4 separate regions of the Homo sapiens genome follow, and all the other regions are linked to region 1. Evidence: fine-mapped expression QTL. A gene starts in region 1. Each other region holds a variant in brackets. All regions are shown on one strand. Distances are from middle to middle.

Region 1 (2,687 bases):
AAGAAAAGACAGACAGCTATTGCATGAAGAACGTGTGTGTTCCTAATTGAAGGAGACGGAAATTTTAGGCGGCAGGGAGAGGAAGGAATGGCACTAAAGCTAGGTACCAAGGCCCACAGGAAAGGTTTTCGGAGCTTGAACTTCTGACTATGCGCTTACACCAAGGACCACAGCGCTTTGAAAGATGTGCAATGCTTTACGCAGGACAGTTGGCTGTTACTTGGAGACCCTTGGGGAAGCTGTCAAAGCCCCCAGGACAAGTCCCTATTCCCCCCCTTCTTCGCTCTGCAAGGAGAGCGGCGTCCTGCACCAAGGAAGGAAAAAAAGTTTCTCTCCGCTCCAGACCCCACTTCACACAGTGGTGTGCAAGTGTGTTCGAGCATGAAGACAACAACGGGCCGGGTCCCGCAAAGAGGCAGAACCGAGTGTACCGTCCGATCCGGGAGACCCGGCCTGAGATTCCGGCAAGGTTTTCTTCCCCGGGCCCGGACTAGGATGTTGCGCGCAGCCAGACAACTTTTCACCGCCTGTTCTCGCCTGCGGAGGCACCTCCTGCCTGCCAACCCCAGGCGCCTTCCCACCCCAGCCTCCCAAGAGCCTGAGGGTGTGTCGGCATCTCAGGACATGCTCCAGCCGAGGTCCCTGTCGCAAACCAGAGTCCTAGAAAAGGAACTGGGCTAGAGCACAGGCGACCACAGACTCGCTGGGTAATCTTGGGCCAGTCTCTGAGCCTCAGTTTCCCCACTGGTAAATGAAAGATCGCAAAATGTCAAGTCCTGTCCAACTCTCCAGCTCTACGATTCCGAGTTAGATCTGGCTTTCAGGTCCTCTCCGCCCTCACCCGACCTGTCTGCCTTCCTCCTCCAGAGTGGGCTCCTTACCCACAGAGGCGGCCCGGGTCTCCACGCAGAGCCACAGGGCGACGGCCAGCAGCACCTTGCTCTGCATCCTGCACCTCGAGCCGGGCGAAATGCCCAGAACTCGGGAGCCGGTTCTTTCTCCCAGCGCCTGTCTAGAGAAGGAGGCGCGGAGGTGGAACTCGCGGCACCCCGCAGCGCAGGACAGTTGAGCGCACAGGGCTAGGGAGCCCGGGCGCCGACCGCGGCTGCAGGGGCGTCTGCGGGTGCCGGTAGGAGAGGATATCCAGGCTGCCAGACGGACTTTCTGCGGCGCGCAAGTGATGCCCGGCGCAGGCAGAGGAAACGCAGCGACCACACATTGACCGCTCTCCCGGGGTCCCGGGACTCAGTGCAGGGTGGGAGCTGGTGCCGAAACTCTAGAGCGCGGAGGCGGGGCCATGCGGGGCGGGGCCGGAGCGGAGGAGGGGCTCTCCCGTGCGGCCAGCCCCGCCCCTCACCCGGGTACCCGGCGGCGATCTCCAGCTCCCCAAGCCCATTTACATCTCCCCATTTCCCCACACAACTGGACTGCGCTGGGCCCCAAGTCGCCCAGGAGAGAACATCCCAGAGCAACAACTTTGTTTCTGGTGTAAATAAAAAGTACTCGGTAACGGGCGCTGAGCAACTCCAAGATTTAATCGCTTGCCGGTCCCCGAAATTTGGGGAGCATCACCAGGAGCGCTGCGAAGAGCAGCGCTCCCTCACCAGGCGCGTCAAAGTGCAGGACCCTCTTCGCCATCGCGCGCGTCTGAAGTGGCCGAGAATCTGCAGCAGTTTGGAGCCACAAGGGAGAAGCGGATACTCAGCCAAGTATGCCGGGTCGCAAGCTGGCAGCGACTCCTGCCAGTAGTTTTGGTTTTTGTATAAGGGTATTTTGTTTGGCCAGTATAATTGTAGTTTAAAAAGCTGAATCTGGTTGCTCTTAATCAGAAAACGCACTTGCCCAGTTCGCCAACATTCCCGCTATTTCCCAAAATATTTGGCGGCTCCAAGTTTGAAGTGACCTGCCTAGCCCCAAGAAGGCTTTTGTCCATCGTGCTCCCCAACGAAGAGCCCTAGTGAAAGTTTGGCCATGCCCCTTTTCAGAGCAGAGCTTCCAGCCAAGATATCCTTAGTCCCAGGGGAAGGAGGCCAGCTGCCAGCGTGCTTCAGTGGAGGAGCAATGAAGCAAAAGCACCTAGGACACTCTGTGACCAAATTGCACAACTGTCTCCACGTGTGTGGACTTCTTGTGGCAGCTGTTTGGAGGGGAACTCCAATTCCTTCCTGACCACATTCGTTCCTTCTGGTTTTCTGTCCATATCTCCCCACACCTGGGGAGTGACATCAAATGTCCCCTAACTTCATTAAATATGAATCTTCCAGATGCCTATGTCTTTTACCTCCCAGAGGTGCTTTTTAATGACAACCTAAAGGACCATTCTTCACCAAGATAAACACACAGAATTATTATATCTACACCTAATTCAAACTAGATTGATTGTATACAATTAATGTAACCTGTTACTTATCTTCATCTGTTTTTAAATATTTACTGTATTCACGCTTTTACTTTTCCAAGTTGACAGGTGAAATATTTTAATGCTGAAATATAATGAATGTATATGGCAAAAAAAAATTTTGGAAAAACACAAAAAGGCTTAGAGTGAAAAGACTTTTCTTTTGGCAGAGGCATTTTTATGTTTCCTTTTTTTTCCAAGCAGATTCTTAAACACAAGTATGTAGACATGTCACCCTTCTCTTCCCACAATTGCTTGGTATAAATGCTATTTGAGCCTTGGCTTTTTT
Region 2 (2,687 bases), 63 kb after region 1:
TGGCTGGGGATCTTAGGACCCAAGGAAAGACATGGTGGTAAGTTGCCTTATGGATCCCAGACAAGAAGCTAAAGAGTTCAGCAATCCAGAAATGCAAATGAGTTCTGACTTTTAAATGCCTCAACAAAAGCCTGTTCTCACTAACCAAAAGACCAGGAAAGGGACAACCTAGCAAAACAGAAAACCTTTAGACAATAACCATTCTACTTCAACCAAACACCACAAACAAAACCTTACTCCCACACATACCAGCAAAGGCTGAGAGGGGAGCCTAGACTTCACCCTCAAGAGGCTATAACACAGTGGCTGCTATGGTTTGAATATTTGTGTCCCCTCCAAAATTCATATTGAAACAATCCCCATGGCAAAGTATTAAGAGATGGGACTTTTGAAAGGTAATTAAGCCCTAAGGGCTCTACTTTTTTTATCCCTTATAAAAGGGCCAGAGAGGTAGGTAGGCCCTTTTTGCTCTTCCATCTTTCTGCCATGTGAGGACACAGCATTTGTCCCTTCCATAGATGCAGCAATAAGATGCCATCTTGGAAGCACAGACGGACCTCTCTCTCGTGAGACATCAAACCTGCCAGCGCCTTGATCTTGGACTTTCAGCCTCCAGAACTGTGAAAAATAAATTTCTGTTCTCTACAAATTAGCCTGTTTGTGTTATTTTGTTATAGCTGCACAAGTGGACTAAGACATTGGCCCAATACCCACCAGGGTAGTATCACAGAAAGCCAATCAGGAAGCCAGGTTTCTATCCCTGCTGACTGACAGCAAGCCTCTGCCCCAACAGGGTCAGTGGAGGCCATGTGGGAGCTTGGATTTCCACCTCAGTCCAACAGTAATGAGAAAACCCTCTTCCTCTTTGCTATGTGGTATCAGAGAATGCCGAAAAAGGGGTCAAGACTTCAACCATCACCAAACAGCAATAAGCCAGTTGCACTGCATTGTCAGTGGAGACCATGTACAAAGGCAAAATTTCTACCCCTACTACTCAGCAGTAATGAGGAGTCTCCACCTCAGGTGTCAAAAGAGGCCAAGTGGGAAACTTAGATTTGTACCTCCACCTGGCAATAACAAAGCAGCTCCTCTCCTTCCCCTGCTGGACTTGTACCAGAAAAATCCAGGTAAAGCAGAAAACTTAAATAAGATCCAGAGTCTCATAACACAATATAAAAATATCTAAGTAACCCATGCCAACGCACATTATAATTAAACTTCTAAAAACTAAAGACAAAGAAAAAACATGAAAGCAGTCAGAGAAAAACCATACCCATAATGAAAAAAAAATTAGAGTGACAGTAAATTCCTCATCAGAAACTATAGAGGCCAAAAATAATTGGCACAATATTTTTCACGTGCTGAAAGAAAAGAACAGTCGACTCAGAATTGTGTACTCAGAAAAAATATCTTAGGGAATGAAAAAGAAATAAAGACATTCTCAGAGTCTCAAATGAAAGAAACCAAGAGAATTTGTCACCAGCAGGCCCATTCTAAAAGATTAGCTAAAGGAAGTTCTTCTAAATAGAAAGGAAACAATGAAAAAAGAAACTTTGGAGCATCAGACAGGAATAAAGAACATGATAAAGGAAAACATGGGTAAATACAGTGGGTCTTTCTTCCTCTCTTGA[G/A]TTCTCTAAATTATGCTTGTTAAATTAACTCAAGATGGATTAAAGACTTAAAAGTAAAACCCCAAACCATAAAAACCCTGGAGGACAACTTAGGCAATACCTAAGTTGTCATAGGCATGGGCAGAAATTTCATGGACATAGGCATGGGCAAAGATTTCATGATGAAGAAGCCAAAAGCAATTTCGACAAAAACAAAAATTGACAAATGGGATCTAATTACACTAAAGAGCTTCTGCAGAGCAAAAAACAAACAAACAAATTATCAAAAGCTAAACAGACAACCTACATAATGGGAGAAAATATCTGCAAACTATGCATCTAACAAATGTCTAATATTCCATATCTATAAGGAACTTAAACAAATTTACAAGCAGAAAACAAACAACCCTATTAAAGTGGGCAAGGGACATGAACAAACACTTTTCAAAAGAGGACATAAATGCAGCCAACAAGCATATGGAAAAAAACTCAACATCATTGATCATTAGAAAAATTCAAATCAAAACCATAATGAGATACCATCTCATACCAGTCAGAATGGCTTTTACTAAAAAGTCAAAAAATAACAGATGCTGGTGAGTTTACAGAGAAAAAGAGCACTTACACACTATTGGTGGGTGTATAAATTAGTTCAACCATTGTGAAAAACAGTGTGGCAATTCCTCAAAGACCTAAAAACAGCACTACCATTCTACTCAGCAATCCCACTACTGGTTATATACCCAACAGAATATAAGTCATTCTATCATAAAGACAAATCCATGTATATGTTCATTGCAGCACTGTTCACAATAACAAAGACATGGAATCAACTTTAATGCCCATCAATGGTAGACTGAATAAAGAAAATGTAGTATATATGCACCATGGAACACTATGCAGCCATAAAAAATAATGAGATCATGTCCTTTGCAGGAACATGGATGGAGCTGGAGGCCATTATTCTTAGCAAACTAACACAGAAACAGAAAACCAAATACCTCATGTTTTCACTTATAAGTGGGGGCTAAATAATGAGAACACATGGACACATAGAGGAGAATAACAGACACTGGG
Region 3 (2,687 bases), 90 kb after region 1:
CTCTCCCTGACAACCAGATAACATCCAGTCAGCTTAACACTGAACACTGAGGAAATGAAAAGGAATGTATACCCAAAACACATTAATTAAGTTTTAAACAAAAGGGAGATAACAGTTTTGTCAGGAAGCAGTAAACAAGCAGAGGACAAGCTACCTTCCACCTCTAAGAGGCTTTTATTGGGCCCAAAACTCCTCTGGGTGAACATCACCCTAAGTTACCATAGCACTCAACTACAATAACTCAAAATGGGCATAAACAGTCAGATGAATTAGAGCAACCCCCAGCAAATTTAAGCAGATGATAAGAGCTAACCTATGCCCCTATACATACCATTGTACCTAGCCTCCTGAATTTGATAGAAGACTGCAATCACAGCTCAGAAATTCACGTTAGCATTTCTTCACAAAATTAACAATACTCCAGAATAAATCTGAGTTTGTTAAAGAAGATTCAAGTGCAGAATGTGCCAAAATATATAAATGTATAAATATCATCACAATGAAACATTTTGAAACTTCTCTTCAGGGCACTGAAAAGGATCTACATAGGATCTACATCAAACAGACATAGTATAAGGGCTTTATGCTATAAGACCATATTTGTAGAACAAAATGAACCAGAATTGAAGTCATGTATGAAGTGCTGTTAGTTAATGTAAATGCTAGTTCTGACTGCTGCCAGGTCAAGCCAACTGATCATGTGATTTAAGAAGGCTCCAAATGTGTTCTTCCTTCAACCTTCTCTATTAGCAACATCAGCAACCCAGTCACACAAAGAACACATAGAGCCATTGTCTTTATCCTCAGCGTTTCCCTCTACCCCACCCTCCACACAAACACATTTTCAATCACTTGAGACTCTTACTCATTCTACCTCTGAAAAGCCCTTACTTCTGTCTCTCTCCATTCCCACTGCCCTACTTTTGGCCCCAAACAACTCTTTAGACTACAAACACTGCCTCTTGACTCATGTCCAAATCCTCCAAATCTTGACCAGATGGCTCAAACCCCTTCAGCACACTAGGTCAGATGTCCCTCGTGTATGTATCTCATTCTCCCAGAAAAAATCTATGGTTACCTCACCAGAGTTACCATATCACTATTTTATTTTATCTTATTTTATTTTACTTATTTTTTTTTAGAGATGGGGTCTTGCTATATTGCCCAGTCTGTAGTACAGTGGCTATTCACAGGCTCAATCCCACTACTGATGAGCACAAGAGTTTTGACCTGCTCCATTTCTGACCTGGGCCGGTTCACCTCTCCTTAGGCAACTAGGTGATCCCCCACTCCCCAGAGGTCACCATATCAATGCCAAACTTAGTGTGGACACCCAATCAGCATAGTGCACTGCATCCCAGAACTCCTCGACTCAAGCCATCCTCCCACCTCAGCCTCCCAAGTAGCTGGGATTATAGACACCCACGGCACTGAGCTAGTTTATTTCATTTTTAATGTAATCATTGTATACAATTATTTTATGAAAATATGGCTTACATATTGCAAAAGGTACAAATTTTAAGTGTACAGCTTAATTTTCACATGTGCACACCTGTAACCACCACCCAAATCAAGAT[A/T]TCAAACACTCCCAGCATCTCACCAGACTTGTAATCAATACTCGGGCACCTAAAGGTAACCACTATTATAGCTTCCATCATGATAGATTAATTTGCCTGTTTTTAAGCTTTATATAGACGGAATTATACAGTATGTGCTCTTTTGTGTAGTATTCCATTTTATGAATATGCCACAATTTATTTCTCTATTCTCCTGTGAATAGACATTTGGGCTGTTCCCATTTGAAGATTATTATGAATAAAGCTGCTATGCACATTCTTGTAAATATCTTTTTTGTGAACATGTGCACTCAGTTCTGTTGGGGATATGTCCAGAAGAGGAACGGCTGGGTCGCAGGATAGATGTATGTTTTATGTTAGCATGTACTGCTAAACGTTTTTCCAAAGTGGTTTTTACCACTTTCTAAATATCCGAATTATTTTAATAGTTATGCTTTTCTTTTTTTTTGATATGATATCTCATTCTTTCGCCTAGGCTGGAGTACAGTGGCACCATCACAGCTCACTGCAGCTGCAAACTACTGGGCTCAAGCAATCCTCCTGCCTCAGCTTTCTGATTAGCTGGGACTACAGGCGCATGCAGCCATGCCTGGCTGTTTTTTTTGGGGGGAAACATGGAGTTCTCACTATGATTCCCAGGCTGGTCTTGAACTCCTGGTGTCAAGCAATTCTCCCACCTTGGCCTCCCAAAGTGCTGGAATTACAGGCATGAACCACCGCACGCAGTCAGTTATGCTATTTTATTGTGCATTTTTGTATGTGCCCATTCCACAACCACACTTGGGCTCCTGAAACACAGGTCCCTATGTTGTCTTACCCCACACACCCAGTATATAGATTATAATTACAATTAAATATTGATATTACATACAAGCAAAAGAGTAAATGCATTCATAGAGCATGGTGGGACAGGGGCTTAGGAATGTGGTGTTTACTCAAAGGAAAATCTATCACCTCTCTTCTGGACCAAGTCCAGGGATGACACATGCCTACCCCAGCCCTGCCTACACTTCAGTAGTCATCCAAAGTGTGGTGGAATATTCACATCAGCTGCCTACATTCCCCAGTCCCCACTGAGTTGCTCAAAAGCCCAATTAGGTCTATCTGCCC
Region 4 (2,687 bases), 86 kb after region 1:
GTTCTGGCTCGGGCAATCAGGCAAAAGAAAGAAATAAAGGGTATTCAATTAGGAAAAGAGGAAGTCAAATTGTCCCTGTTTGCAGATGACATGATTGTATATTTAGAACACACCATTGTCTCAGCCCAAAATCTCCTTAAGCTGATAAGCAACTTCAGCAAAGTCTCAGGATACAAAATCAATGTGCAAAAATCATAAGCATTCCTATAAACCAATAACAGACAAATAGCCAAATCATGAGTGAACTCCCATTCACAATTGCTTCAAAGAGAATAAAATACCTAGGAATCCAACTTACAAGGGATGTGAAGGACCTCTTCCAGGAGAACTACAAACCACTGCTCAACGAAACAAAAGAGGACACAAACTAATGGAAGAACATTCCATGTTCATGGATAGGAAGAATCAACATCATGAAAATGGCCATACTGCCCAAGGTAATTTATAGATTCAATGCCATCCCCATCAAGCTACAAATGACTTTCTTCACAGAATTGGAAAACCCTACTTTAAATTTCATATGGAACCAAAAAAGAGCCTGCAATTGCCAAGACAATCCTAAGCCAAAAGAACAAAGCTGGAGGCATCATGCTACCTGACTTCAAACTATACTACAAGGCTACAGTAACCAAAACAGCATGGTACTGGTACCAAAACAGAGATATAGATCAATGGAACAGAACAGAGCCCTCAGAAATAATACCACACATCTACAACCATCTGATCTTTGACAAACCTGATAAAAACAAGAAATGGGGAAAGGATTCCCTGTTTAATAAATGGTGCTGGGAAAACTGGCTAGCCATATGTAGAAAGCTGAAACTGGATCCCTTCCTTCTTATAGAAAAATTAATTCAAGATAGATTAAAGACTTAAATGTCAGACTTAAATCCAGAAAACCCTAGAAGAAAATCTAGGCAATACCATTCAGGACATAGGCATGGGCAAGAACTTCATGACTAAAACACCAAAAACTATGGCAACAAAAGCCAAAATAGACAAATGGGATCTAATTAAACTAAAGAGCTTCTGCACAGCAAAAGAAACTACGATCAGAGTGAACAGGCAACCTACAGAATGGGAGAAAAGTTTCACAATCTACCCATCTGACGAAGGGCTAATATCCAGAATCTACAAAGAACTTAAACAAATTTACAAGAAAAAATCAAACAACCCCATCAAAAAGTGGGCAAAGGATATGAACAGATACTTCTCAAAAGAAGACATTTATGCAGCCAACAGACATATGAAAAAATGCTCATCATCACTGGTCATCAGAGAAATGCAAATCAAAACCACAATGAGATACCATCTCACACCAGTTAGAATGGCGATCATTAAAAAGTCAGGAAACAACAGGTGCCAGAGAGGATTTGGAGAAATAGGAACACTTTTACACTGTTGGTGGGACTGTAAACCAGTTCAACCATTGTGGCAGACAGTATGGCAATTCCTCAAGGATCTAGAACTAGAAATACCATTTGACCCAGCCATCCCATTACT[A/G]GGTTTTGATTTGCATTTCTCTGATGACCAGTGATGATGAGCATTTTTTCATATGTCTGTTGGCTGCATAAATGTCTTCTTTTGAGAAGTATCTGTTCATATCCTTTGCCCACTTTTTGATGGGGTTGTTTGATTTTTTCTTGTAAATTTGTTTAAGTTCTTTGTAGATTCTGGATATTAGCCCTTCGTCAGATGGGTAGATTGTGAAACTTTTCTCCCATTCTGTAGGTTGCCTGTTCACTCTGATCGTAGTTTCTTTTGCTGTGCAGAAGCTCTTTAGTTTAATTAGATCCCATTTGTCTATTTTGGGTATATACCCACAGGATTATAAATCATGCTACTATAAAGATACATGCACATGTATGTTTATTGTGGCACTATTCACAATAGCAAAGACTTGGAACCAACCCAAATGTCCATGAATGATAGACTGGATTAAGAAAATGTGGCATATATACACCATGGAATACCATGCAGCCATAAAAAGGGATGAGTTCATGTCCTTTGTCGGGACATGGATGAAGCTGGAAACCATCATTCTGAGCAAACTATCACAAGGACAGAAAACCAAACACCACATGTTCTCACTCATAGGTGGGAATTGAACAATGAGAACACTTGGACACCGGGTGGGGAACATCACACACAGGGGCCTGTCATAGGGTGCGGGGAGAGAGGAGGGATAGCATTAGGAGATATACTTAATGTAAATGACGAGTTAATGGGTGCAGCACACCAACATGACACATGTATACAAATGTAACAAACCTGAACGTTGTGCACATGTACACTAGAACTTAAAGTATAATAAAAAAATAAAAATAAAAAAACTTTAAAAAACTACTTAAAAAAAAGGAGATCCTTATCTTTTCTCTCTGCTGTCTTCCACTACGGACCCAAAGTTTTGAACAACTTTATTAAATAAAATGTACTTGTGAAATGATAGTTTATGTGATCCTAACATAAGAAAAGTATATTTTTTCTACCAGCCTTTTAAAAATAATTAACATAACTCAAAAGAAGACACATTACTATTTTCAAGAAACTAGTAGTATTAGAAATTATCCCTCCTAACCAGAAGTTTACAATCTCTTTGTAGAAAAACATAAATGAATGATCATACTCTAAGGTAGTATATATTAGGTATATGATATATGATACACACAAACCACATGTAGTTTTTT

Which allele goes with the higher level. Positions count from the first base shown, and alleles are read on the strand shown. Sizes are in standard deviations (SD) of each study's normalised expression. Not every link is listed here.
In carriers of allele G in region 4, the expression in fibroblasts of the gene that starts at base 1,250 in region 1 tends to be lower than with A alone (large effect, 1.0 SD a copy in GTEx).

What was found. PIP is the estimated chance that this variant, and not a neighbour inherited with it, causes the effect.
Region 2: its variant is fine-mapped to the expression of KDR in fibroblasts (GTEx, PIP above 0.99).
Region 3: its variant is fine-mapped to the expression of KDR in fibroblasts (GTEx, PIP above 0.99).
Region 4: its variant is fine-mapped to the expression of KDR in fibroblasts (GTEx, PIP above 0.99).

Annotation. Positions count from the first base shown.
Region 1 is chr4:55,124,346-55,127,032 of GRCh38, forward strand. KDR (kinase insert domain receptor) reads right to left here and starts at 1,250. Exons shown (of 30, transcript NM_002253.4): 1 at 882-1,250. The coding sequence starts at 948.
Region 2 is chr4:55,187,819-55,190,505 of GRCh38, forward strand. No RefSeq gene overlaps it. Among named protein-coding and RNA genes, the nearest start is that of KDR, 64 kb to the left of the region's middle. The variant G/A (reference allele first, on the strand shown) is at 1,632.
Region 3 is chr4:55,214,484-55,217,170 of GRCh38, forward strand. It overlaps the pseudogene RN7SL822P. Among named protein-coding and RNA genes, the nearest start is that of KDR, 90 kb to the left of the region's middle. The variant A/T (reference allele first, on the strand shown) is at 1,578.
Region 4 is chr4:55,209,922-55,212,608 of GRCh38, forward strand. No RefSeq gene overlaps it. Among named protein-coding and RNA genes, the nearest start is that of KDR, 86 kb to the left of the region's middle. The variant A/G (reference allele first, on the strand shown) is at 1,504.